4 linked regions of the Homo sapiens genome follow. The protein of the gene in region 1 interacts with the protein of each later gene in a pairwise test. Each region holds a gene or a part of one and is shown on either strand. Other genes may lie near its edges.

Region 1 (7,025 bases):
GGACCACACGATCTCGCTGTTCTCGGGGACCCACTTAACGCTCCCCACCGTCGTCTTGAACTTGGGTGAGTCGGCATCATTGGGCACGGGAATGTGGATCTCCACGTTGTTGGCTGTTGACCGCCGCTTGAACTGGCTTTTGGCCTGCAGGCCAGGCCAATGCGGCCCGGGGTTATGGAGGCCAAGGTGAGCTGGCCAGCCTCTCCAGGACACATGCCCCTCAGCCTGGCCCGGGGGATCCTCCCTAGCCCCGCCCCTGGCCCCACTTCTCCAGGCACTACCCACCCCTTCTCCTGCCCTCGAGACTCTCCCAAGACCTAATTTCAGGAGTTTCATCTTCATCCTCCTGTCTGCTCAGCTTCCAAGGCTCCTCATCCCTCCCTCTGCCCTGCCCTCCTAGGACAATGTCTATGTCCCAGGGCCAGGCTGCGCTGGACAGGGTCGCTGAGGGGCAGAGGTGCTCCACCTGGGGGCAACACCTCTGGGAGTGTCCTGGATGCCTGGCTACAGGCCCCTCCCCACAAGTGGCACCATCTAGGAGCAGGCCCCAGGCGGTGTCCCCTCAGTGTCAGGTCACTCCTGCATCTGAGGCCACAGTGAGGGTGCACGGATGGCAGCCCTACGGCACCCCCAGCCCTCGGTTAGGCTCCTGGGACGGGCCAGAGACACCAGAAGGCCCTCAGTGGGTGGCCTCGGCCCACGCACCTTGATCATGTACTCGATGCGGCTGTGGGAGTGCTTCTCGATCACCGACTCGATCCATATCAAAGGCTTGACCTGCCAAGGAGGGCAAAGAGGGTGCTCACACCTGGCCTTGTTTGACAAAGGCCCATTTCAGAGGGGAAACCAAGGCCCAGGGCAAGGGACCATCTGCCCAGGTGTGGGCCCAGAGCCCTGCAGGGAGCGTACAGCCAGCGTCAGGGAGGGCCAGGGCAGACAGGCCGAGGTAGCCGGGAGCTACCGGGGAGGCCTTGGGGCAAATGCAGAAAACATGACCAGGGCCTGCTCTGGGGGCTGCCTGGGAAAGGGGTGGTGGTGGCCAAAGGGGTCTGTGCCCCTCAGAAAGCTCGGAGTCCCAAGTCCTCAGACTCCATCTCTGCAGAGCCAGGCAGCTCATGGAGCGTGGGGTGGGGCTGGCCCTGGCGCCTGCCTGGGCTTCACCTCCTGGAGGTGAAGGGGAGGAGGAGTCTGCCGACAGCCCAGCCCCAGGGTGGCGCACTCACGTGGGTGTTGAGACGGTAGGACATGAGCTCGAACTCGCCGTCGGGTGGGATGAAGGAGATGGTGCGGTCATTCTCGAAGCGTGATAGCCGCACACACTGGTGGAACTTCACATCCTCCAGCTCCACGGATTTGCTTTTGCCGCCTGGGGTCAGGGGTGAGGGTAGGACAGATCTGGGCCCTCCGGGTCACTATCTCAGCAGTACTCCTACCACCTGCAACCCACCCCGGCAGAGCAGGGCCCCCAGTCCACGCACTGAGAGCAGCCTGGGCCACAAACACCAAGGGGGCTGGGTCCCAAGACAACTGCCCCATCACTCCTCACACCCCTGGGGTCCCCAGGGGCAGGGCTGGTGGGTCTGGTTCATGCTGAGTCCCCAGCGGCCATCCCAGGGCCCAGCCAGGGGACCTGCTCAGGACACGTTCACTGAATGATTGATCAGTGGACTTGGCTGGGGGATGGCTCGGGGCTCCCCAAGGGCTCAGGCCCTGGCATCCACGGGGTCCTGGGTCCTACCTTGGTTTGCCACCTCACTGAGGGCTATGTGGGTGGGGCCCTGCCCAGCCCCAGGCGGGGAGCTGCCCTGATAGACTGATGCCCGAGAAGCCCTCACCGGGCTAGGAACGGGGGCATGCCCAGCCACTGCACCCTCTTCCAGTGGCCTGTGACAGCTGAGTGGGAGGCACAGTTCACAAAACCAGGCCCTGGGCCCCTCTGCCCCCGCCCTGCTGTGGGAAGTGTTAGAGGCCAGGCGGCGGGAGCGAGAATCACCATGCGTGGCCTTCACACGGCCCACACCTAGGGCCCAAGGTGAGGGGAGAAACCTGGCCTGGGAGGGAGAGAGCAAGGCCTTAGCCTAGGCCCCAGTGCCCCAGGCAGAGCAGGGCAGGGTGCAGGACCTGGCGTGTGAGGCCGGGTGACGGGGGCCTCCCAGCTGGACTGGAGGATCTTCACTCCCCTGCACCTTCTATGTCCAGGGAAGGATGAATACTCTACACAGCTGTCTCAAGCAGTGTGAAGTGCTGCTCAACCAAGTGCTTGAAACCAGCTCGTTCCTCCGCCTGGCCCAACCCTGCCCTAGGCTGTAATGTGTGTGCCTGGTGAGGCCATCCTCATGGGCAGGGCCCTTGGCAAGGGTACTCACGGCCCGTGTTGTCAAAGAGGACCTTGTCGTTGAGGCCCAGGCGCAGCTCGGGCATGCCCGAGAGGAAGACTCGCATCTTGATGGAGCCCACGATCTCGCTGCGCAGGACATTGCCGTTGGCGCTGACCTGGGGGTGGCGGTGTGGGCGTGAGGGGAGGTCCCCAACTCACCAGCCACTGCCTCCTACCACATCATGTGACCCTCTGGCCACCCCACTCTCAACGCCCTTCTCACCTCCAAGCCCATCCCTCTCCTGGGCATCCCCTGAGCTGGGAGAGTCCCAGCTGTGGCTAAGGTCTACCCCTAACCCACACCAACCCACGCCTGGCTGAGGGTCCCCAGGCTCACCCCTCCAGCCTTCATGCCGAGGCCCTGTGGACATGAGGTGGACACTGTGGGTCCTGCCCTCTAGGCCTCAGGCCACACTGGGACCTGATGATGCGTGCCTGGAGCCCCCTCTGAGGGTTCTCTATCAGGTACCAGTCCCTCCCTCCCAGGAGCCCCCTGAATGCTCCGGGCCGGCCCGGCAGCTGGTCCCCACGCTGAGTCAGCTTTGAGAGTCCATGAGCTCGGCTGGACCTGGGCCAGGACCCTGTGGTCCCTGCTCAGCCGATGGGCTGGGCTGGGCTGGGGTCTCTTGAACCAGGCCAGACTTGCTTTTCTTGAAAGCTGTTTCTCCTCTTGGCCTCCCAGGGAGGCCACTGGCCCCTCACCCCCCAGGGCTTATGAGAGATGGTGCTTCCTGAGTCCTGACCCCTTCTTGCTTCTCAGGGCCACCCTGAAGTGTGATAACACTTGATCCAAAATAATCAACTTAAATCCAGTCACAGTGGCTAACACTGACAGCATTTCCACTGCGCCAGGCATTGCTCCACACACGCCTCGACAACCTCTGGGGCAGGGACTGTGGGGAGATGACCTGAGGGGCTGTAACCCACTGCGCATGCCGAGATGCATCTGAAAGTGCAACTGAAAATCCACACCGGGGCGACGGTCCTGCACCCCCTAGCCTGTCCTGCGTGAGCCAAGATGCTGGAGCATCTCTTCTTGCATCCATTTTAGAGGTGAGGAAACAGGCACAGATCAGAGGCCCCGTGCTGAGGGCACAGAGTGACTGGCAGAAGAATCGCTGGGGCTGCAGCCCTGGCCACCACTGCACACTGCTATGCTGCACGAGGCCATGCTCACACCAGCAAGTGGGCCAAAGGCCACCGACTTGGATACCTGGGCCCAGATGCTGGCTCCAGCCAGGCTAACATGTGCAGGGCCTGCATTTCCTGTCTGCAGAGTGGCAGGAGAGTCTGTGCAGTCTTATGCATGATGTCCAAAAAGCACTGGGTAGACAAACAAAAGCCCCTCACCAGCTTGCCGCCTCTGAGGGAATTGGGAAAACTGAGGTGCCAAGCAAATGACAGCCCTGGGAGGGGCAGGGAACCGGACATGGCCCCAAGGGCTCCGGTTCTGTCACCTTCCCCAGCCTCACCTCCTCGTGCTGTCCTGTCCTCATCTCGCAAGCGGCTCCCTGATCCCATGGTGCACAACAGCTTCCCTGCGTCTGCCTGCTTGTCTCTCTCTCTCTCTCCCTGCTGGGGGAAGCCACGTGGGGCTGCGCGCTGCCGTGTCCAGCACCAGAAACAGCGTGTGTGGCAGGAGGTGCTCAGTGGGCAAGCGGAGGCTCAGGAGCTCGGGACCCTCACTGGCCGGGGCTCCAGGAGCCCGAGCATTGGGATTTTGCCTGCCTCTTTCTCGGAGGGCCCTCCACTCCACTGTGACGGCCCCTAATTCCCCTTGGGTGCTGCCTCCCCCTCAGGGAGTTGGGACTGGCCCTGGCAGCCAGCTGTAACTGAACACATGAGGTCGTGAATGCCGCGAGAGCAGGCCCAGGGAGTGGAGCTGAAAAGCTGCCCAGCCCACGAGGCTGATCTCGGCCCTGCGGGCAGCAATCAGAACCTTCTCAGCTGAGGTGTGACCAGCCACGCAGAGCCGGTGCCCTTCCCAGGGCGGGTGCTGAAGGGATGCTTGCTCAGGGCCCGGCTGTGTAAGTACCAGGCTGCACTCAGATGATCGCATCTGGAGGCAAATGTTGACCCAGCCACCAGCTCTGCAAGCCACTTAGGAAGGTGGCATCCTGACAGCTGCCCTTGTGCTGACCTGTTTGGAGGAGTGGGATCCTTCCGGGCGGAGCCACATGCAGCAGCGCACTGTGGCGGGGACCCCCGCAGCCCTAGCGCTTTCCTGCTCGACTCTCTCTAAGCTGCCCCCTGGGACTTGCCTTTGCACCCCACAGCACCCAGATGGACCCTGTTTTCGGCTCAATAAACAATCAGACAAGAGTCCCCAGGGGAGAGGGGAATGTGGTTAGCGAGGCCACTGTCCCGTCCCGGAAAGTAAGAAAGCGAAGAGGTCTGCACGGAGTGCGCGAGACAGTCTTTCTGGGCAGCACTCTCCTTGGCAATTCCATGTCTGCAGCCTCAGTCCTCCAGAAATCCTGGCCCAGGTCACGGAGACACCCAAGTGCACACGTCTGGGGCTGAGCAAGCGTGCTCAATGCTGCACTGCCAGTGGCCGTCAGAAACGGGACCTGAGTGACCTGCATGACTGGATTGGCTGAGCCCATACAGTCCACCCACACCGCAGGGATGAGGCCAGCGTGAACACAAAAGAAAGCAAGCGGCTGGTGAGGCAGGTCGGCTGGCGCCCCTTCCCCTGCCACTGACTACAGCTCTGAAACCTGGGCAGGAGGCTTGGCAGCTGCCGGAAGACTGAAGACAGCAGCAGGTGGACCAGGGAAGAGCCACGAATGCAGAGTGTTCCCACCGCCCCCCACGAGAAAGTGCAGCAGCAATCTGGAAGCAGAAGTGTGCACCACAGAGCACACGAGAGCTCAGCAGAGCCTCCAGGCCTGGCTCTGGGGCCAGAAGAGGAACTCCTGACTCTCCTGGAAAACACAGAAGCCCCCCATCTCCCCTGTTCCTCATGCCCCAGGCCCTGTGGTGCCAGCTACTGTTCCGAGGGGGTGGGGCAACCGTTGTCCTTTTCTCTCTCTGTCCTCTCTCCATGTGGGCTGGGAAGTGGGCCCAATGGCAGACGTGTACAACAGTAAACCGCAAGGAATCAGAAAAGTACCAGGTAGACAGCACAGAGCCAGAAGCTCAGGAAAGTCACCCCATGAAGTGGTTTATGTCTCCAGAACTCTCTAGAATCGAGCATCTGTGAATCCTGTGCATATACCATAGTTTGACTTACGAAAGAGTTTGAGAACTGAACTAACCACTCGGGTCCCAGAATGACCACTGGGCAGTGCACGCCCAGGAGATCTGACCAGGAAATGGCACGGGGGCTTTAAAAACTGACGTGATGCTCATGGCCTACAGGTTGGGGATTGGAACTTGTGGCCTGAAAGTAAGATTGGCTGTTGGCTAAAACAAAAATATCAATATTTCCCATATAGCTTAAATAAGACCTAGAGTATCACCACATAATGCTCAAAAAGTCCAGGATGCAATCCAAAATTACTCAGCATACAAACAACCACGAAAATGTCAACTTGCCTGGAAAACCCAATCAACCACTGTCAACACTTCACAGATGTTGGGATTATCTGATGAAGACTTTAAACAGCTATTTTTAAAATTGCAAATGCTTGCAACAAATGTTAAAATAGAAAGTCTCAGCAAAGAAACAGATGATAAAGAAGAATCAACCAGGAGTTCGAGACTAGCCTGGGCAACACAGCAAGTCCTGGTCTCTACAAAATAAAAAATAAAAAAAAATTAGCCAGGCATGGTGGTGCGTGCCTGTGGTCTCAGCTACTCAGCACACTCAGATGGGAAGATCACTTGAACACACGAGGTTGAGGCTGCAGTGAGCTATAACTGCACCACTATACTCCAGCCTGGGCAACAGAGTAAGACCCTGTCTCAAAACAAAAACAAAAACAAAAACAAACAAAAAGAGAAGAATCAAATGGAAAATTTTTAAAAATATAGTAACTGAAATAAACAACTTGCTCAATGGACTTAATAGCAGAATGGAGGCCAGGTACAGTGGCTCATGCCTGTAATCCCAGCACTTTGGGAGGCTGAGGTGGGAAGATCACTTGCCCCAGGAGTTCTAGATCAGCCAGGGCAACACAGAGAGACCCTCATCTCTACAAAAATTTTTTTTTAAAAATTAGCCAGGCTTGGTGGTGCACACCTGTAGTCCCAGCTACTCAGGAGGCTGAAGCAGAAGGATCGCTTGAGCCCAGGAGGTTGGGGCTACAGTGAGCCATGCTTGCTCCATGGCTCTCCAGCCTGGATGACAGAGTGGGAACCTATCTCAAAAAAAAAAAAAATAATAATAATAATAGTAATAATAATAATAACAGAATGGAGATAAACAGGAAAGGGCCAAAGGACCTGTGAACTTAAAGGCAGTTCAATGTAAATTATCCAATCTAACAGAGAGAAGAAAAGATAGAATAAAATAAGCAGCCTCAGGGACACATGATATAATAACCAAAGGTCTTTCATGTCACTGGAGTCCTGAAGGAAGAGTAAAATGACAAAAACATATCTGAGGGCTGGGTGCGGTGGCTCATGCCTGTAATCCCAGCACTTTGGGAGGCTGAGGCAGGTGGATCACCTGAGGTTGGGAGCTTGAGACCAGCCTGATCGA
Region 2 (7,659 bases), on another chromosome or scaffold:
GAACTCCACAGGGAAGTAACAAACACTCACAGGCCGAGTGGCTCCGGCGCCCCTCAGGCAGCACTGGAGTCGGGGGACAGTCCAGCCAAGCCTCAGTTCTGGTGTCAAAGACTCGAATGCGGTTGCAGTAAATCTCATTGTTGGAATGGAATGGCCCAAAGCGGTCGGCACGGCCCCCAAAGACATACATGTGACTTCCCAGCATTGTGGCTGAGTGGAAGTCCCTCCAGCGTGCAGGGCTGCCCTGGGCAGAGGCAGAGAGATGGTGGAGGGGTCAGCACAAAGACTGGAAGAGGATCTCCTCTGACTGAGCTTCCTATCATTGCTTCAACAGAGGGTGGGGATTTGGGAAAAAAAAGAAAGAGCAGACCTTTGTACAGATAAGAGTCCATGTCATGGTGCTGGTATCTAGCTTGTGAATGTCATTGGAAAAACAGTCCGCCTGAGTAGGAAGAGAAAAGGAGGAAGAAAAGAGGGAGCCAATGGTCACTCTCTGACCCTCCATCCCTCCCCTCAAAACCTGCAAACAAGCCAAAGCCTCCCATTTCACCATCCTAAATTGCCCTTCCCCTCTTTCTCAGTCCCACCCTAAACCTCTTATTTTATTCCCAGACCTACCTGCTGCTCGTAGCCCCCAAAAATGTACATGATCTTGCCTAGGACACAGGCTGAATGTCCATCCCGGGCCCCAGGAACTGTCCCTGACACTCGGGGTGTGAACCACTTGTGCGTATCTGAAGGAGATGAGAAAATGGCTCAACTAAGCACCCTCTATGACAGTCCCTCCTCAGCTCTGGGGTACTCTACTCCCCAAGACCCCCAACCCAAACCTTTCTTGGGCAACTGAGGCAACATCTGGAAGGACATAGCCTCTCTGAGATCCATACTCACTGACGTCAAAGGCATAGAGCACATTGCAGGCCCCTTCGGTGTCATTCCGCCCGCCCCAAAGGAGGACTGTGTCGTCGATGAGGACGGTTGAGTGTCCATAGCGCATGTAGGGTACCACAGGAGCTTGCCCACGGATGGCAGACTTCACCGGGGGCAGCTTTGTCCAACGCAAGGACACTGTGGGCACAGCTCTGCTCAGCCCTGGGAACCTCCCTCCAGGCTGTCCACTTTTCCCAAACCAGATGTTTGTCCCCAATCCCCTTGGTCCCAGAGACCACAGCCAAACCTCATCAGCAGCCCGTTCCCACCCTGATGTGGGGACCCAGGGACAGCCCCAGCATTGGCTTACCTGCATTGAAAATGTGCACATCTATCTGACGCAGTGTCTCATAGTCTTCACCAGAGCAGTAACCCCCGAAGGAGTATACCCGATGCCCGACAGCCACTGCAGCATGGTTCACCCTGCGGGGCCCGCCCTCCAGGTGCACTGTCCACCGTAACATCCCCTGGGCCACTGGTTACAGCAACATGCCCCCCCGGCACGGCCTGCTGCCTCTGCTATCTGCACACAAATTGGGGCCACGGGATCCTCAGGCGAGGCTTCTGCCCAGCTCACTGTGACTCTGCCCAGAACCAGCCTTTGCCTCCAAGTGTCACCCTGGGGGCCCTCCCACACTACCCCTCCACAGGGGCACTAGTCTCAGCTCAGGTGGCTGGCCCTGCCCCAAGGGAGCTGCCGAGGTCAGGGAGCAGCCTGGGCCCAGTGTTCTCCAACAGTGAAGGGTGGGGCCACCCCCACCTGATTGCCAGCTCAGAATCTGCATATCATGGTCACAACCTACTCGTGGAGGCTCCACTCTGTCCCTGGCTTGGCACAAACTTGAAGCCCCCTTCCCAAACGGTATATTCTCTTGTCTCTGCTCTGCTTACTGCCACCTCTCTAAGAATCTGTGTTCTTTGAGGTGGGGAAAGGGATCTCAAAATACTCACAGCTATTAATAGCCCAGCCAGCCTCAAACAGTCCATTGAAAGCTGGCATGAGTGCCTCAAAGCAGAAAAGCTTTCAGGCTTTTAGAGTGGAACAATCCCCCTACCCAAGATAGGGCGGGACTGATCCAGGACAGGGACCTCCATGTTACCGCGGTTGGTTAGCCCCTCACAGGGAGCTCCTGTCAAGCTGAGTTGTTGTCATTGGGGTCACCCAGGGCCCCCCACAGGCACAAGGAGTTCCTTTGACAGCTGTGCCTGGTATGCTGCCAGGACTTAAGCCAGAAAGGTATGTGTATGCTTAGGCTTGGGGGATGGTGATAGAGGGAGGGGTTTTCTCCTCCTGCCACTTCCCCATCCCTGCTACTGTGGTAGAGAACAAGCCATTTCCAGTAGAAAAGAGAGAACAAGCTCTTCCACAACTTGGGTTCCTGAAAGGCGGATAGAGGTGGGAGTGTGCAATGCAAAGGGGAAGGGGCTGGGCACAGTGGCTCACACCTGTAATCCCAGCACCCTGAGAGGCCGAGGCAGGTGGATCACGAGATCAAGAGACGGAGACCATCCTGGCCAACATGGTGAAACCCGTCTCTACTAAAAATACAAAAATTAGCTGGGCACGGTGGCGCGCACCTGTAGTCCCAGCTACTCAGGAGGCTGAGGCAGGAGAATTGCTTGCACTCGGGTGGCGGAGGTTGGAGTGAGCCGAGATCACACCACTGCACTCCAGTCTGGCGACAGAGCGAGACTCTGTCTCAAAACAAAAAAAAAGGGGAAGGGAGGCAAAAAATGCCCTTGGGCAGGACAAGAGAAAGATCCAGCATGAGAAGTCATGGTCTTTTTTTTTTTTTTTTTTTTTAGATGAAGTCTCGCTCTTGCCCCCAGGCTGGAGCGCAATGGTGCAATCTCAGCTCACTGCAAACTCTGCCTCCCTCCCGGGTTCAAGCGATTCTCCTGCCTCAGCCTCCCAAGTAGCTGGGATTACAGGCGCCTGCCACCATGCCCAGCTAATTTTTGTATTTTTAGTAGAGATGGGGTCTCACTATGTTGGCCAGGCTGGTCTCAAACTCCTGACCTCAGGTGATCCACCGTCCTCGGTCTCCTGAAGTGCTGGGATTACAGGCGTGAGCCACCATGCCCAGCTGGTCATGGTCTCTTAAACACAACCTGTCAACCTAGTGGCACGTACACCTGGGTACATCTGAGGTTTTTTCAGGCAAATCCTTGCAACTGACAATGCTTTTGCTGGCAAGCATCTCCTGAGTTTGGGTGTATCATCATCTGCTCCCTGTTTAAGAAGCCCTGGCAGAGGAAAGGGCCAGGCAAAACCTCAGGCACTAAAACAGCTCAAATAAGGGAGGCCCCTTGCAGGAAAGAGACATGGCTTTCAGCTGGCTTGCTAGTCCCACCCACCCAACCTCCCCCAACTCCACACCCTAAGCTTTAAATAGCCATGGGACCCATCCTGAAATAGCCCCAGCAGGAAGCTACTCTCACTTCATTACTCCCGCTCTCCAAAATATCTTGGGTCTGGGCTTGTGGAGACTGTTAGGAGGTCGATGGGCTTAAGAATGGAAGTCTTCCATCCTCCCTTATATTCTCTATTCTTCCCTTCAGATATGTCAAGGTAAAGTAAAATATGCACAGGAGAGGAGATAAGCAATTCCAGCCAAAGGTGGAGAAAAAAAATTTTAGTTTCTCTGCCATATAAACAACTCAAATTCAAGGAGAACAAGCCCCCAGGCGCTCAGGGGCTCCTCTTATCCCTGGGTCTCCCCAGTCCTCCATCACCACCAAGCATTTTCAAACTTCTTCTATTCCCTTAATGTATCTACCCGCCTGGTCTCTTGCATTTTTTATTCCCCATTTCTCGCCCTTCTTGATCTCGTGAGAGCTTTGCAGTTTTCTCATTTTTCCTTCTCCTACCATTCCAAGCTCCACCCAACAGCCCTCCATTTTCCCACCTCCACTAAGGAAAGAAAAATTAGCATGCACTGACCACGATACCCCTCTCTGCATATGACTCTATCCCTGTCTTCTTCCAGACATTCCGGCCTCCCCTAGCCCACCACGCCAGACACCCCTCCCCTTCCATTATGCTCAGCTTCCCTGTTTTCATGGCCCAGTCTTCCTTCCCATTTCCTTCATTGCTTCCTCCAGACACCAGGTCTCTCCTACCCATCTCCTCGCCATCCTCCCCTAGCCCTGCTTTCCCCATTAACACTCTCCTTTCCCATCATCCCCCTAGCTCCCTCCCCACCCCCACCTCATCACTCTCAGGCCCCTCCCCCGCCACTCCAGCTCCAGACAGCACGTCCTAAGCCCCCTAATTCTCCCTTGCCCTTCTACCCATCCCAGGCTACCTGCCAGGCCGAGCCGGGGCGGGGCCGCGGGTCCTCGAGCTGCCTGCAGCCTAGAACCCGTTGCGCGCCAACCGACGCCTTAGTCCCCAACGAGATAAACACAGCCAAGCTCGGTTCTTCCGGCGGGCAGCTGTGCGCGCACGTGCAGTCGTAGCTAAGTGCCGGAGGCATTTCGGGACTTGTAGTCCATACGTTTCCTGAGGGACGAGAGGGCTGAGGAGTGGGCAGGGGCGTAGGAGAGATTCTGCGCATGTGCAAATATGTGTCGAGACCGAGGAGGCCACTGGGTAATGCAGTCCTTTGTTTTTTGGGCTGGGAATGACGGAGGCGGGGCAAGGGGCGGACTCCTCGTCCTCGCCAGCGTCAATCATGGATATGGGGCGGGGCTGGAGGACTAGGCACCTCTGCACGTCCTGCCCCGCCGGAAGTGGAGGCCGCGGGCTCTGAGCGGGTGAGGCGCGCGGGAACACCGGCGCCGGGATTCGGATGGGGGCGGGTGGGGGACGCTGCAGCTGGGGCCATTTGAGGGGAGCCCATGGGGCCTGAAAGGCATCTGTCAGGCGGTACAGAGGGGGTCCTCTAGGAGAGGGGAGAAGGGGGCGGGTACGCCGACCTGTTTAGGGGAGTCTGATGACCCAGAGTTCCCAAGTCGCGGGGGAGGCGTGGCGCGGGGAGCCGGGGTTCTGGAAGGGGTGTCTTTTAGGAGGTGGCAGGGCCTCCGGTTGGGCGTTTAACTAGGAAGTGGCGGAGCAAGTTGGTGGGGCCTGGTTCAAGATAAGAACCCCGACTTAGGAGGGGGAGGAACGAGAGGCTGGAATTGGGGCGGAGGGGTGGAGGATGCAGGAGCCTCGGGGAGGAGCTGGTTTTTTGCACGCAGGAGACTACAAGGAGATGATGAGAGGATGAAGATGGGCCTGGTTTCATCCGATCCCTGTCCTACCGCCTCCCTGTTCTTGCAGCCCCTGCCCGGATGGCAACAGTAGTTCTAGGAGGAGACACCATGGGCCCTGAGCGTATCTTCCCCAATCAGACTGAGGAACTGGGACATCAGGGCCCTTCAGAAGGCACTGGGGATTGGAGCAGTGAGGAGCCTGAGGAAGAGCAGGAGGAAACGGGGTCGGGCCCAGCTGGCTACTCCTACCAGCCCCTGAACCAAGATCCTGAACAAGAGGAGGTGGAACTGGCACCAGTGGGGGATGGAGATGTAGTTGCTGACATCCAGGATCGAATCCAGGTAGGGTGGAGGAGGGATGGTTCCTGAACAGGTGAAGCTGGGCTCCCTGAAAGCCTAGACCCAAACGGTCTTCTGTGGCTCTGCAGGCCCTGGGGCTTCATTTGCCAGACCCACCATTAGAGAGTGAAGATGAAGATGAGGAGGGAGCTACAGCGTTGAACAACCACAGCTCTATTCCCATGGACCCAGGTAAAAGATCATTCTTTCATTCTGGAATAATTACTAAGGAAATGAACTGGCATGAGTCAGTAGAAGGAAGTTTCAGAGGAAGACCCTATCCTAAAAAGATAGTTTGTAAACTAAGATTTTGTAGACTTCAGAGTCCAAGTGAAATGCTCTTTTGCTAGCTTTGGGGATGGGCAGGCTTGCCTTAAAGTAACAAGGTGGATTTGGTGACCCTAGCAGCCCAAGGGCTCTGGGTTGATTCGGGGATTGGGGAGGGGAGCTGGTCCCATTATTTCTATGCCTGAATGGCCTCTGGCTCTGATTTCAGAACATGTAGAGCTGGTGAAAAGGACAATGGCTGGAGTAAGCCTGCCTGCGCCAGGGGTTCCTGCCTGGGCTCGGGAGATATCGGATGCCCAGTGGGAAGATGTGGTACAGAAAGCCCTCCAAGCCCGGCAGGCATCCCCTGCCTGGAAGTGACCACAGTGAGAGCTGCCTTATATTCCTACATTCCAGGCCAGAACCAGCACAGGACTGAACACATCCCTGGTTGTAATGTCCATTTCCATCTTCCCCGTCTCCCTTTCCACATCAAGGCACATCAGACTTCTCAGAGACCCACTTTATTCAGTTCTGTACATATGGGGACATCGGTCCAAGCCCAACCCACCTTAGCATGTATCACTCTGTGGAGAATAAAGCACCCTATGTACACAGCCAAAAGCCGCACTGCCTGCGCCCCTGGAACCTGGGTCCGGCCTTCCTCAGCCCCTGGCCCCTCCAAGGTACCTATAAGGGACAAGAGAAGGCCTGCCCAGCATAGCACAAACAAGGAAATAAATAGGTGTTGGCAGGAGCCATGCTTGGGGCACCGCTCCCTGCTTCCTTCTTTCTAGTTTTGGGAACCAACAGCACAGAAAAGCAGTCAGCCCCAGGGTGGTCCCTTCCATGTCTGTGACCCCAGGGCTGCTGCTCACCAAAGACAGGGCACGGGGTAGGGTGTTTATTCATCCCTCCCCGGCCCCACTTGGTCCATCTGGGCCCTATATTCATCAGTTATTGTCCACAGCCTATACTTTTCTCCTTTTGACCTCCCTTGGTCAGGCATGGGGTAAGAAGAAATAATACAACCCTATCTGCCAGCACACGGCTGGGACTGGGGGGCCTATTTGTGCTGCAGGGGGGTTGGCTTCCCTTCAGCTACTCTGGGACCAATGGGGCTTGACATAACTTTGGTGAGAATAATCTCCTGCTGTTCCCTACATGCCTCTGCAGGGGAGAGAGAGGAGGGGAGATACCTGGCGTTCAAATGAGGATGAAGGGAAGAATAGAGGAGCGTATGTATTCCTGTGTGTACTTCTCAGAGCAGCCTCAGGTAGCTGTGGGTGAGGAGCAGGTAGGGGACAGGCATCCCCAGGTTGTCTGAGCACTAAGCATCTTAGTGCTCAGCCTGTACTAGCCACAGGGAGGCATGAACACCTTTTGGGGAGAAGAGGGACCATTCTGTGGGTGTCCCTGCTTCAAGTGCCCACATCCCCCTCCCTTGAGTAGCTAGAGAGGCGCTGCCTTCCCCCAAGACAGCCAGTAGGGAGCAGAGTATGGAGGGCCAGGGCAGTGTCCCAGGGCTGTGTGGGCTGTGGCCCTGTGGTAGGAACGTGAGGGGTCAGAGAGCCTCCTGGCTGGCAGTTAGGAACTCTTCCGCCCGCTTGTGCGCCTCCAGTGCCTTGATGGTGTACACGTCCTGGGGCAGCTCCGACTTCCTCCGCAGCAGCACTTTCTCCTTCTTGATGTCTTTTAGCATCTGTGTGTGAATAGGGACAAGGTGAGGAATGGTGACCAATTCCCAGTGAATTCTATTGTTCCGTCCCCTTATTCTTTGGCTCTGCTGTTTCTGTCTCCTCTCCCTTCCAGAGCTATTATTTCTGCTCCATCCCCCTACATTGCCCTCCCACCTGAACAGCCTCAGTCTCCACAGTCCTCTTCAGAAGCTGGATGTCCTCAGCTGTGGGGGTCTCTGTCTCC
Region 3 (7,978 bases), on another chromosome or scaffold:
AACCCCATCTCTACTAAAAATACAAAAATCAGCCAGCTGTGGTGGCGAGTGCCTGTAATCCCAGATACTCAGGAGGCTGAAGCAGGAGAATCACTTGAACCCGGGAGGTGAAGGCTGCAGTGAGCCGAGATCATGCTACTGCACTTCAGCCTGGGCAATAGAGTGAGACTCCGTCTCAAAAAATTAAAAAAAAAAAAGGCCACTCTGTAAAAGAAATTGTTACTTGTGATGAGGTAATGTAGGTATGTCTAGCTGTACCACTCAGAGCTGAGAAACCCTAGACACATTACTCTAAAATTGGGGTAACGAAAATAATACCTAAATGAAGTTATAGCAGGAATCAGGAGAAGGTCTGAAAACATGAGTTATAAAACAAAAAAAGCTCTGTGCAGACCACACAGAGGCTACCCCCTCCTCCTCCTGGTCCCACTGCTTCAAACCCATCCAGGCCTTCACTAAGTAGTGCTATTTGTGCTGGCTGCCTTGCAAACAAATCTCCTTTACCTATGTCCAAAGAAGAGTCAAAATGAGAAGTAGGGGCAAGGTATTTGTCAAACTAGAATCAGACTCCAAGAAAGTCACATCAGAAAAGTCAAACAACAGACATCCAAATGGTGGTGGCGTTGTTAGTATACACCAGGGGAAGGGACAGTAAATAACTAAGTCAATTATTACTGAAGCTCTGTGGCCCTCTGTATGGTACTTAAAGCCTCTCTGACTTTGTTTCCCAATCTATAAAATGGGAATGGAAAACATATCAAACTCAGTGTTGTCTGGGTTTTAACGAGACAGTCCATGAAAAGTGCCTAGTACAGTGCCTGGTATACATATAAATGTCCAGTGAATATTAACTATCAATCCTGGACAAATTAAAGTCCAAAGACACTCACAGACTTAATCAAGATTTGACAATGCAACTTGCAGAGCCAGGTCTTCTGACTGAAAAGCTCCTGCTTTCTAGTCAGTGCATAAGAATGACACAGAGCCAACCAAAGTCCTTGAAGACAGAACCAAGCCATATCGTGGTAGGTGGGGAACCCACTGGGAGGCAAGTGCAGAGCATTTGGGTCTGACACTGACACTAGCAGTTATCTCTGTGTTCCTGCTTCTGAGCCTTTTCTTGTCCTTTGAAGCCCCCAGTTCTTTCCATCTCTAGGTGTCTCCGTCAAGGACAGACTTAAGACTCACCCGAAAGAAAACGAGACTTCTGGTAAAGCCCTAGAGACCTGATCTGGCATCACCGGCTTTGCTCTATTTGCTTTGAGGAAGCCATCCTTCCCTGGTCGTCTTCACTGCATCTGCTCTGTGTACAGAATCCTTCTCATTCTAATCCACCTTGGTGGCAGTAAGTGCTTAGATAAGCAAACTTGGCTCACCAATACCATGAGGTTCTTTGGTGGGTGAAGAGATGTTTCCTTTTCCCAGGTCCCCTTACTTCCTCTCCATCCCCCCACTAAACTCCCATCTTCTCTCTGTACTTCTCTCACCTTGTACTCCTGCACCACCTCCTCCAATGGCACCACGCTGTGCTGTTTGTGGCTCCTGGATTCTCGGCACACCACACAGATGGCCTCTTCGTCTACCTCGCAGAAGAGCTTCAGGGCTTCTTGGTGTTTGGGACAGATGCCCTGATCGGTCACGCGGCTCCCTCGACCAGGGGTTGGGTGCATCTGCCGAATCACCTGGACCATATTGGCCAGCTGCAGGTTGGGGCGGAAGCTCCGCCGAGGAAAGCTCTTTCGGCACTGAGGGCATGTGAAGCACCTCCGAGGGGCTGGAGGCGGGGGCAGTGGGGTGACGGGGTCTAGATCCTCTTCCTCAACCTCCTCCAGCACTTCCTCCTCGTCCTCCTCATCCTCCCCCCTCAGGTCCTCCTCCTCCATGTCCCCCAAGTAGTAGTCCAGGTCTTCCTCCTCGTCCTCCTCCTCCCACACATAGTCCATGTTGTCCCAGCTGGACCTGCTCATGCCACTGGTCCAGAACACACCCTCTTCTTCCTCCTCGACCTCCTCCTCCATGTCACCCTCGTAGTCTTCATCCCGCATGGGGGTGTCCCACCCCGCGCCAGCCCCCACAGCCTCCACTTCCTCCTCCTCTCCGTCCTCCTCCTCCTCCTCCCGATCTAACTCATCTCTGTCCTCCTCATCCTCCCCACCCCACAACTGGGTTACACAAACTCGGCAGAAGTTGTGCCCGCAGCCGATGGACACGGGGTCCGTGAAGTAATCGAGGCAGATGGCGCACACCGCCTCCTCCTGAAGGGTCTGCACAGGGTTGGGTGTCATGGCAACGGCAGCCATCTTAGTGTCCAGCCAGCCAGTGTAGAGGTTCGGTGGGGGGGCGAGGGGCGGGGGTCTTCCCTACCGACGCCCTGGCGACCCGGCTCCACCCCCAGCCCTGCCCCTCCACACCTCGCCCCAAGAGCAGCCAGAGAGATGTCCTGCCGACAACCCACCCCAACACAGTGTTCCCTACTCCCAAACGACAACCGTGTCTCTACGAGGGGAGGGGACAGTGCTGGGCGCCACCGCCAAGTCCCTCAGGTGGCTCTGAGTACAAGTCTGCCCCAATGCTCCCTTGGACTCCTCATAAACCCCCGCCCCTCCTCACTTCCTGGCCCCGCCCCTAGCTTCCGGCCTCCTTCCCAACACTTCCGGCGTCTACACACCACCTAAGCTCGCGACTTCCCTCCGCTGTCCTGCTACTCCCCCTTTTTCCCCGCGGGGCCCCAGGGCGACAGGAAATGGCGAGGAGACGCTCTAGTCCGCACTAGAGAACAGGGCGGGAGGGCTAGGACGGTGGAGGCCCGCGTCTCTGTGGTAAGAGGCCGCGGGGAACGCAGAAAGAACAGAGGAACCGCCTACCCCCATCCCCCGCCGCTGGGGAGAAACTTCGGGGGGTAGGGGGAGCGCCTGGCGGCCGTCTGCTTTCGGTGCTATCACCGCATCGGCCAGACGCCATCCTACCCTCCCGGCACAGCCGACTGCAGCCGGTACTCCCCACAGCCGATGCCGGAAGCGAGGGGGTGGGTCCGCGGCGCGCCCTGAAGTACTTCCGGCCCTTCTAGGCAGACGACTTCGTTGTGGAGGACTCAGAGGGTCGTCCGGGTCGGACCGGGGGCGGGGCCTGAGAAAGCGCTTCGCGGGTTAGGGCAGCAGACGCCCCACCCTTCCCCAACTGTAGTCGGCGTTTCGCATCCGAGGTAGAAACTGCCAACCGGACACTGTCTCATGGTTTAGATGAACTTCCCTAACTGCCCAGCAGTGAAGAAGTGGTGACGAATCATTACATCTACATTCTCACAGCATCTCTGCAAAAATAGATGCTTTGTGCGGTAGAAATAATACTTGATGCTTAAATAGCTCTTTAAATTTTATTTTTATAGAGATTTGATGTCGATACATAAATAAATAAATGTTGTTTGATGCGAGAAAAATGACGGGGCCATGATTTATGTACAGAATCTCCAGTGAGTGCCAGACACAGCGTGACGCCAGGGCTGGGCCTGCAGAACTTACCCTGCTCTCAAGGCGGCTCGCGGGAAAACTCCAGATGGACGTCGCGCTTCCTAGGGGGGTGGTCAGGCCTCTGAGTATGTCAGATCAAACGCGCCAAAAACCACGAACCCTCGTGGGTGAACTATGCTAGGCCATTACAGGACCTGCGGACTCGGCTGCGGTGGACAAGTCCGGCTCCAGAACCTGGACACCGCTCAGCCGGCCGCGGCAGGGGTCCCCGGGCCTGTCCTACAAGGGCGCTTGCCTAGAGCTATCCCGGCCGTCTCAGCCGTGTGTGTCTTCAGGACGATGCCGGCAGGAAAGTAGCCAAGGTGGTTTCCGTAGTGTAGTGGTTATCACGTTCGCCTCACACGCGAAAGGTCCCCGGTTCGAAACCGGGCGGAAACACGTTTTGGTCTGTTCGGGAGATTCTCTCCCGAGGCCGGCCTTACGTGGCAGGAAGGACATGTGTGTCCCTGCGCTTCGGAGGAACACGGACTGGGGCAAAACTGAAGGAGAGCACTACTCAAGTAAATTCAGGTCTCGCCCCTCACCTAATCTCTTGCTCTTCCCTTCTGAAGCCTATGCAGCCATCACATGTACAGGAATCCGTAGATTTCAGATCCTCGGCTCTAGTGCCTAGAACAGAGCCAGGCGCAGGCGCTTCTTAGTATTTGCACAGTGGAAACGTGCTTACACCTCTGAGGGTAACCTCCATCTTCAGAGACAAAGTTAGAATACAGACATGGCCGCCCGGCTAGCTCAGTCGGTAGAGCATGAGACTCTTAATCTCAGGGTCGTGGGTTCGAGCCCCACGTTGGGCGTAATTTCGCTTTTTGGAAAGGTTAAGGCAAGTTGTGTTACCTAAGTGCACAAATGGTATTCTCTGTACCAAGACCTAGTGGGTAGCAGATTCACCAACAGTGGGTGTTAGAACTTGGACTAACCTGGTGTTCTCCGATCCGTGTGTGGAAGGCCCCGAGCAGAATTCTCACAACGTTTGCACCCTCGCTAACTCTCAAAGAAAGAATGAGAGGCGGGTACCTGTGGACCAATTCCTGCAGGCCAGCACCGCGGGCTATCGTGCATGCATGACCCTTTGCTGTAGGCCACTCGCCCACGGGCAGCACATATTAGGCATTTTATGTTTACCAGACGGCCTGCCCCCGTCTTGCTGTGAGACTTGCTGTGCTGGAGGGAACAATGTGGTTTATCGAAACTGGGGTGAGACCGCAGGACGACCCCAGGCGTTCGTGAGCGTCAAAACCTATCTGATTCACTCCCACTTTACTGGGAGATTTAGTGGTTAGGCTTCCGCCTTTGTCTCGCTACGACCTGCTTTCGACTCCCTGTCAAGAAAGATGCTTTGTGTCATATGAGACACTTGTCTTCCGTATATTCTTTTTTATGCTCTTGACTTTAAGAGTCTATTTTTGTGAGATGTTGCCCCACAAATACCAGCCTCCACGTTTCCCCCATACATAAATAGAGATAAAAACGGGCCATGCGCCGCGGTGGCTTATGCCTGTAATCCCAATACTTTGGGTAAGCCAAGGCGGGAGGATCGCTTGAGCCCAGGATGGCCTCGAAATTAGTCCTGCAAATATAGGCCTTTTTTCTTTTTTTCTTCTCTTTCTTTCTTTCTTTTTTTTTTTTTTTTTTTAAGATGGAGTCTTGCTCTGTTTCCAGGCTGAAGTGCAGTGGCACCACCTCGGCTCACTACGACCTCCGCCTCCCGGGTTCAAGTGATTCCCCTGCCTCAGCCTCCCGAATAGCTGAGACTACAGGCGCGCCACCACGCCCGGCTAATTTTTTGTATTTAGTAGAAACGGGGTTTCACCATGTTGGCAGGACGGTCTCGATCTCCTGACCTCGTGATCCTCCTGCCTCAGCCTCCCAAAGTGCTGGGATGACAGGCGTGAGCCACCGCGCCTGGCCCCGTTTTGTATTTTTAAGCTGTCGAAGTCTCCTCCGCATACGCACCACACCACGAGAGAAGTCTGTTGATCATAGAAAGCTGGCTTAATCTCGCTGAGCAAAAGATAGCATCGTCTTCTGTCTCAGACGTAAATCAAAGCGGGGACTTATGAGGGCTATATAGTCTGTGAGGGCGGTCTGGGCAGAAGTTGGTCAACGTTTGTAAATAGGCAGAGTCGCTAGTACAATCCTAGCACATGAGTTACTGGTGTTCAAAGCTGGTGTTCAAAGAGTTTTAAGTTTGACATTTCGTCTTGCACAAATTATTTCGGATTCTTTTGCAGACTGTGATTTCAGGGTTATTTTTTACCACCTTCACTGGGACTGGAAAACATTCTTAAAGGATTCTGGCTTTTTCATTAAAGTGGAGATGAAGTGGACAGGCTTCTCTTCTTTGTCCTCTAGCAAGCCAAGGGAACGCCCGCTGGAGCTTTTTGCTACAATTCCTGCTTTCTCTCCTCTCCACCCCTTCCACCCGTCGCCGCTCTGGCCAGGTCAGGTTTGGGATGCCCCTCCAGGCAAGTGACCCAAGCTGCTCCGGGCACAAAGGCGGCAAGCGTTCAACAGTCGGAGAAGCACGACACACACATGAACCTGGTGGGATCTTTGGCCTCCTCCCAAACCCTGTGGTGATGGGGCCTGGGGAGACTGAGGGACTCACTCTGATTTATATTTCAGGGGGTTCCTTCAGGAGTGATGCAAACAGGGAGTATGAGGGGGAGTAAGACTGTCGGAGACAGGGGCTGGAAGGACACAGGCCTGGTCCATACAGGAGGCGGCCGGCGCCGGGTGAGGCGGCAGCCAGAGGGAGACGCAGGTGAAGGAGCGGGATGCAAGGCTTGCAGCGGCGATAGATTTGGGTAGTTCCACAACCTAGATCACAGGCTGAGGATGCGGGAGGGGAGGGAAGAAAAAAACAATGACTTAGGTCTCGAACGGTTGGGCGTTAGATGCTGTGAGATACCTGGAAAAACTGCCCAAGACACGCGTGGATCTGAAGCTTGGGAGAACAGTTCTTGCTGGAACCAGAGACGGAGCTAAGGTGTGGGTCCTGCTGCCAGCCGACGTGACGCTCCAGGGTCAGCCTTGGGCGCTCGGAGGCGGAGACGGGATGGGAGAAAAGCCTGCAGCGAAGCGCCCACCCAGGCCTAGGGTGCCGCACAGTGCAAAGGAGATTGGCAGCGTCCAGTTCAGCACATGGTCTCGTAAGAGAAGGCGTCCATGGATTGGGCCACCTGGAGGCCCGTGGTGACCTTGACCAGAGAATCAGACGCACACAAGAAGGGCTCCCGCCCTGCGCCGAAAGGAGCGGGCCTTCGGGGTCACAGAGGCAGCAAGGATCCCTGATCAGCAGGACTGCGCCTCGCTTCCAAGCAATCCAGGTATTCGGAAATTAGGCGTCGGCGGCGGAAAAACATTTCACAATATTAAGCAATCGCTACTACTTTTAAATTTACATATATGCAGATCTCCATATGACAGGCGTTAAGCGTATTCCAACTCTACATACGTACATACCTTGGATGCTAGGATTGGCGAGTTTTATTTTTATAAAAATACTTAAAATTTTTCATTGAACTTTTAAAATGTAAAAAAAATTTCAGATTTATCTTTAAAAACCGACTTAAAATTTTGATATTCATTAATTTATATTTTGCCGTTTAGTTTAATACTTATGCATAATTCATAGAAATAAATTTTTGAAAGGACATAAGAATAATTTCACTTTTTGATTTTTATGTTTACTTTAATTTACATTTTAACAAAATATATTTAAATATCGTGTGCTTTAAATGCATTTTGCATTTTTTGAATCCTCTCTGTCATTACTGTCCGTAGAGCACAAATCATGTGAAAATTGAAACCTCTGGCTGTCTTCCCTGGAAGAAAAGGAACCACTAGGGAAGCGTATCCAGTCTTAAGCCTTGGAAGGTACATTTGCCTTTCCTCCCGCGATGCTCGCTAGTTTTTTGTTTTGTTTTTATTTATTATTATTATTCGAGACGGAGTCTCGCTGTGTCGCCCAGGCTGGAGTGCAGTGGCGCGATCTCGGCTCACTGCAAGCTCCGCATGCCGGGTTCACGCCATTCTCCTGCCTCAGCCTCCCGAGTGGACTACAGGCGGCCGCCACCACGCCCGGATAATTTTTTTGTATTTTTAGTAGAGACGGGGGTTTCACCATTTTAGCCAGGATGGTCTCGATCTCCTGACCTCGTGATCCGCCAGCCTCGGCCTCCCAAAGTGCTGGGATTACAGGCGTGAACCACCGCGCCCGGCCTTGTTTTGCTTTTAATTGCTGGAAGTGACTGGGGTACCCTTAGAGGTCACGCTTTACAGTTTGACAAACGGCATTACGCAGGGCCACAAGGAGACTGGTGTTCTGGGGAAGAATGGATCTAAGGGCCATGACTCCATGGGTGAAGCCGACACCTGGATGTTGACTATAACACTTATAAAAGTCATAGAGTAACCTCTCCGCATCTGTTTCCGTAGTGTAGTGGTTA
Region 4 (5,462 bases), on another chromosome or scaffold:
TTAGAGACAGGGTCTTTCTCTGTTGCCCATGCCAGGGTGCAGTGAAGTGATCATAGCTCACTGCACCCTTAAACCCCTGGGCTCAAGCGATCCCCGCAGCATGCCACCATACCCAGCTAATTTTTTTTTTTTTTTTAAGAGATGGAGTCTCACTACATTGCCCAGGCTAGTCTTGAACTCCTGGCCTCAAGTGATTCTCCTTCTTCAGCCTCCCAAAGTGCTGGGATTACAGGTGTGAACCATCATGCCCAGCCCACTACTATATTTTTAACTTTGGGCCTAGACTGCTTCTTTCAGAGAAAATCATGAATGTTTCAAGTCTAATACTATTTATTGAATTCTAATGTCTTACTTAGTCCCACTGACGATACTCCTGCTTAAAATTAGTAAACCAGCTGTCTCCCCTCTTAACTAGTTAGGAGACATTTAAAAATGTGTAACTCTACCACATAAGTAAGTAGTAAAAGCTAACTAGGTTGATTTCAAGTAATAAAAATAAGTCTTTTTCTCTGTTTCTTTTTCATCTCCCTCTCCAATCCTTTCCCCACCCAGTTCAACTTCTTACACCAGGATATTAGTAATGACTTTCCCTTCAGGCATCTTGGTTGGCCAACAGTGGAAGAAGGAGAAGGGAACATGTCCTGTTCTTAAGAAGAAGGGCAGTTACCGGGGTGGCAAATGGTTCCCAAAGTGTACTTCTCTATTGACTCCTTATCACCCTTTTTTAGAGTGAATAGCAGCTGCAGATGAATTCGCATAGTACCCAAGAGCTCAGCCTATGCACACAGACCACTCATTATCACAGGCACACCAAGAGCCACGTTCTGCAGTATGAATACTCCTCAGTAAGACATTAGATGATCTTAAGTTCTTTTCTGGAAAATAAAAATAGAGAAAATCCAAAATAGTAATCTACTTATCTACAATTTCCCCAGATGTCTATGTGATATCAGCTGCTTTATTGCCAGATGGATGAGAGTGATTTTCACTAACTTGAATAACAATAGCTGTCTTTTATTGATGGCCATAATCATTATTCTAATCCTCATATCAATCCTACAATATAGATACTTACTTATCTCCTTTTACAGATGACAAAACTGAGGTTCAGAGAGGTTAATTTGCAGAAGACCACACAGCAAATCCAAGACAAAGCCTGAAGTAGAAACACGAACTAAAAAAACAAAAACAAAAACAAACAAACAAAAAACTTTATTCATTGTCAGAAAGATTAAGTAAACTATTTCATCAGTGTACAGGAAGGAACATTTAAAAAAGAAAAAGAAAAACTTTCTTTAATATTAATAAAGACGGAAAGGACGGGGGAAATACAGTATTTTATTAAATTAAAAAGTGGAAATAGTGTGGAACCCATTACTAGCAAAATTAAGGTCATGTTCTTACCCACTGTCTTTTTGTACCTCTGTACTGTAGTTTACTGGAAAAGGAGTCAAGTTTAAGCATCAGCAATATTGGTTATGTAAAAATAATTTGACTTACTTAGAAACTGAGAAATATTTGAAGGTATTAAAAATTGTTTACCCCTACATAGGATTGCTAAGCTTTGGCTGGAAGAAAAAAATGTGTCTGCCTCATGTAGGACCAAAGTCCCATTTGAGAACAGTTGATGTATCCTTCATTAAGGTCCACTGATTGCTCTAAAATAAAGTCAACTTGCAATGGGTTGACCCTGGGATATGTATTGCTAAAAACCTCTCAAACTCTAGCTTTCAAAAATACTCTTGCCTCTATAATGCCAGCCTTACTGAACATTACCTCCAGATGATTGTGCATTGCTTTCTTTAGTTATTATAAGGATTAGTGCTTTCCAAAGGAAATACAATTGTTACACATATAATTTTAAAATTTTTATAGTCACATCTTAAAAAGTAAAAAGATACAGGTGAAATTAATTTTAATGTTATATCTTCACTCAATATATCTATAATATTGCCATTTCAATATGAGATCGATGTAAAATTATCAATGAGATAACTTTTTGAAGTCTTCAAAATCTGTTATATATTTTATATTTATAGTAACATATCTCATTTTGATCTAGCCATGTTTCAAGTGCTCATTAGTCACATGTGGCTAGTGGCTACTATATTGGACAATACTTTTAATGTGTGTTTGCATATAGAAATTTTATATAATTAGTGAATACTTCAGGATTCTTTATTTGACATTATTAAAGAGATTATTATAGTTATGTAGACTTGGAGGAGAGCTATAGAAGCATAGAAAAACTTAAAATACTAAATTTTATTTCAAACCCCATGGTTGTGTTTTATTGATTATACAACATATTCATTAGTTTTAGAGATTATAGAAATGCCAATTGGGTTTCTTTCACTAATGGCAGTCATGCGTGATTTTCCTTTGATAATAGGAACAGCATGGATTATTAGAAAGCATTTAGTTTCAACAAAATTCAGTTTAAATATTAATCTTCGAGTATGTACCACTAACCATCTATCATCTTAGGGAAAACTAATTTGAAGACCTGTTTCTCTCCAAAACATTGCTTCAAAGAATAAGAAAAATAAAACCTCAAATAGCTTTTCATACTGTTGTATCATTTACTGTAAGTAATCTTGCACATGAGTTTCATTATTATAACTATTCCTTAAAGTTACTGGAAATTCACTGTGATACCTTTTAATTAAAGGAATGTTATTTTGGCCTTCCAGATAAACCTCTACTTGCAAAGGGAATTTGAAAAAGATGAGAAGCCACGTGACAAGTCATATCAGGATGCAGTTTTAGAAGATATTTTTAAGAAGAATGACCATGATGGTGATGGCTTCATTTCTCCCAAGGAATACAATGTATACCAACACGATGAACTATAGCATATTTGTATTTCTACTTTTTTTTTTTAGCTATTTACTGTACTTTATGTATAAAACAAAGTCACTTTTCTCCAAGTTGTATTTGCTATTTTTCCCCTATGAGAAGATATTTTGATCTCCCCAATACATTGATTTTGGTATAATAAATGTGAGGCTGTTTTGCAAACTTAACTTGCAGGAATGGTATGACTGTGTTTCCTACTGCTTTATTCTGTAAACAAGAATTGTAGCACCATGAAACAGACCTCTGGGTCCCAGTGGGCATTTTTTCCCCTTTCAGGATGTAGGAGGACATGTATAGTATGTCAAAAACTGCAAGCTTTTCCCAACTTTAACCTTACCAGCATGTTAATATCCAGTTTTTTTATAGTTTAAAAGTTAAAGTGCCTCATATTTTGAAAATATCCATTAAGGACCCAGGAATTAGCATTTCACTTGTTTATACATTTTTATAACATTATGAAGACGATATAAAAATCCTAGAACTGAAGAGTCTTCCTTTGGTATATGTGCAGGAAGATAGTTGTATATCTCTGTTCCACAAAGAACGCAACACAGTCTCTAAACTTTTTGGTGTAAGCTTCTAGCCTTGGGTATTTTCCAGTGGGGAATGTTTAAAAATATTTGACCAAACCAAAGACTTTTTGCCTCTTATAGCAAGCATAAAGACTGTACTGCCTGGCTTTTGTATTCCTTCAGACATTATTGTAAATGTGCAACTCCTCTTCCCTCTTGTAAACCTTTATAAGATGTCTGCCACCCCAAGCTTTTGTCTTGATAGTTTTAAATTGATGCCATGAAATTTCTTAGTTTTCGTTCCCTTTCTCTAGTTATCTCTTTCCTTATGTCACCTCATTTCCCATCATTCTTGTCACTAATGATGAATGATCATTACAAATTGGTATGCTGTCAAATTTTGATAAATGTGCCAAACAAAGGAGGATATACAGTGCCATGGCAATTTTGTGTCATGGTCAAGTTATGATATCATATGACTTGAGAATAGTATGTAAGAGATGCTGTAGAAGATCACGTTGGTACCAAAGAAAGGGCACATGTCTATCGGAACATAGATTTTGCATACTGCATGGTATGGTCAGGCTTTGTGTCCACACCCAAATCTCATCTTGAAATTATAATCCCCATAATTTCCATAATCCCCACATGTCAATGGAGAGACCAGGTGGAGGTAACTGAATCATGGGGGTGGTTTTCCCCGTGCTGTTCTCATGCAATCTGATGGTTTTATAAGTGTTTGGTAGTTCCTCTTGCATTCATTCTCCCACCCGCCACCTTGTGAAGAAAGTCCTTGCTTCCCCGCCTTCCACCATGATTGTAAGCTTCCTGAGGCCTCCCCAGCCATGGGGAACCATGAGTCAATTTAACCTCTTTCCTTTACAAATTACCCAGTCTGGGGCAGTTCTTTATAGCAGTGTGAAAATGGACTACTACACTGCATATATAGGAAAGTATGGTCAGACAGTAAATAGCTCTGTTCAAAATAATTGAGTTCCAAACAAGTAAAGTTTTTTCTACCTTCTGAAACTTGCTCTTTCCAAACCATTGTTCATCCTTTAACTTCTTTACACTATCAAAAATTCTATTTAAAAATAGAGGGCTTTCAGATGAGTACATACAAAAACAAACAAAAGTATACATAGGGGTAACACAACCATGAGATTAGTAAATAATACATATGGCTAGCACATAATTTGACACCTTATAAAACAAGAATCTGTACTATCTTTTCCTTCCTCCCAATATTTCTTCATTTCTATGCTCAATTTTCTAATACTTTTTCACATGCTTAATCATTTACTCTTTCATCGCCTTCCCTCAAAAAAACCTGCTCCGTTGAAGTAAACTAAGTAACTCAATATTCTTTATTTTGGTTTGGAACCTGTCTCAATTTTTTGTATCCATATTAAGAAGTCACCCTATAATCTAAACTTTGTAATTCTAATTTTTTTGTCCCATTATCATACAAAGTGCTTTTAAACTTGTTTTTAAAAAATGACAGATAATGCCACATGAATAGGAAGATGATTCATTCTAAAACTTGTATTTACATAATTAAAAATAAATTTATAATCATTCTACATACAATACAGTGTACAAGTATTTCATATATCTGCATGATTGCCTTATGCCTTCATATGCATATATGTGGCATTGAGTGCTGTGACTACATTTTGAGTTCTAGAATTTTTTTTTTTTTTTTTTTTTGCAGGTGCAAGATTTAATAGAGTGAAATAGAGTGAAAACAGAGCTCCCATACAAGGAGGCGACCCAAAGGGGGTTGCCATTGCTGGCTGGAATGCCTGGATTTATATCCTGATCCTTGTCCCTCCCGCTGTGCTCTCAGGCAATAGATGATTGGCTATTTCTTTACCTCCTGTTTTTGCCTAATTAGCATTTTAGTGAGCTCTCTGATTGGTTGGGTGTGAGCTAAGTTGCAAGCCCCATGTTTAAAGATGGATGTAGTTACCTTCCCAGCTAGGCTTAGGGATTCTTAGTCGGCCTAGGAAATCCAGCTAGTCCTCTCAGTCCCCACTCTCAACAGGAAAACCCAAGTGCTATTGGGGAGGTTGGCCGATGACTGCTCTA

Evidence for each region.
Region 2: the proteins of AP1M1 (region 1) and MEA1 interact in binary tests that used the Homo sapiens proteins (3 or more experiments, as listed by UniProt).
Region 3: the proteins of AP1M1 (region 1) and TRIM41 interact in binary tests that used the Homo sapiens proteins (3 or more experiments, as listed by UniProt).
Region 4: the proteins of AP1M1 (region 1) and FKBP7 interact in binary tests that used the Homo sapiens proteins (3 or more experiments, as listed by UniProt).

Annotation. Positions count from the first base shown.
Region 1 is NC_000019.10:16,221,889-16,228,913, reverse strand, and holds part of AP1M1 (AP-1 complex subunit mu-1), read right to left. Parts: intron 2,494-7,025; coding exon 2,367-2,493; intron 1,367-2,366; coding exon 1,224-1,366; intron 778-1,223; coding exon 706-777; intron 145-705; coding exon 1-144. UniProt on the Homo sapiens protein: Subunit of clathrin-associated adaptor protein complex 1 that plays a role in protein sorting in the trans-Golgi network (TGN) and endosomes.
Region 2 is NC_000006.12:43,010,928-43,018,586, reverse strand, and holds MEA1 (male-enhanced antigen 1), read left to right. Parts: upstream 1-4,640; 5' UTR 4,641-4,773; coding exon 4,774-4,801; intron 4,802-5,197; coding exon 5,198-5,472; intron 5,473-5,558; coding exon 5,559-5,661; intron 5,662-5,965; coding exon 5,966-6,117; 3' UTR 6,118-7,300; coding exon of another isoform or gene 7,301-7,438; 3' UTR 7,439-7,444; downstream 7,445-7,659. Other genes in the region: KLHDC3 (kelch domain-containing protein 3), read right to left, coding at 31-244, 371-442, 619-734, 892-1,068, 1,241-1,394; PPP2R5D (serine/threonine-protein phosphatase 2A 56 kDa regulatory subunit delta isoform), read right to left, coding at 7,301-7,438, 7,590-7,659. UniProt on the Homo sapiens protein: May play an important role in spermatogenesis and/or testis development.
Region 3 is NC_000005.10:181,218,322-181,226,299, reverse strand, and holds the start of TRIM41 (E3 ubiquitin-protein ligase TRIM41), read right to left. Parts: upstream 3,020-7,978; 5' UTR 2,301-3,019; coding exon 1,488-2,300; intron 1-1,487.
Region 4 is NC_000002.12:178,463,163-178,468,624, reverse strand, and holds the end of FKBP7 (peptidyl-prolyl cis-trans isomerase FKBP7 isoform a precursor), read left to right. Parts: intron 1-2,693; coding exon 2,694-2,855; 3' UTR 2,856-4,961; downstream 4,962-5,462. UniProt on the Homo sapiens protein: PPIases accelerate the folding of proteins during protein synthesis.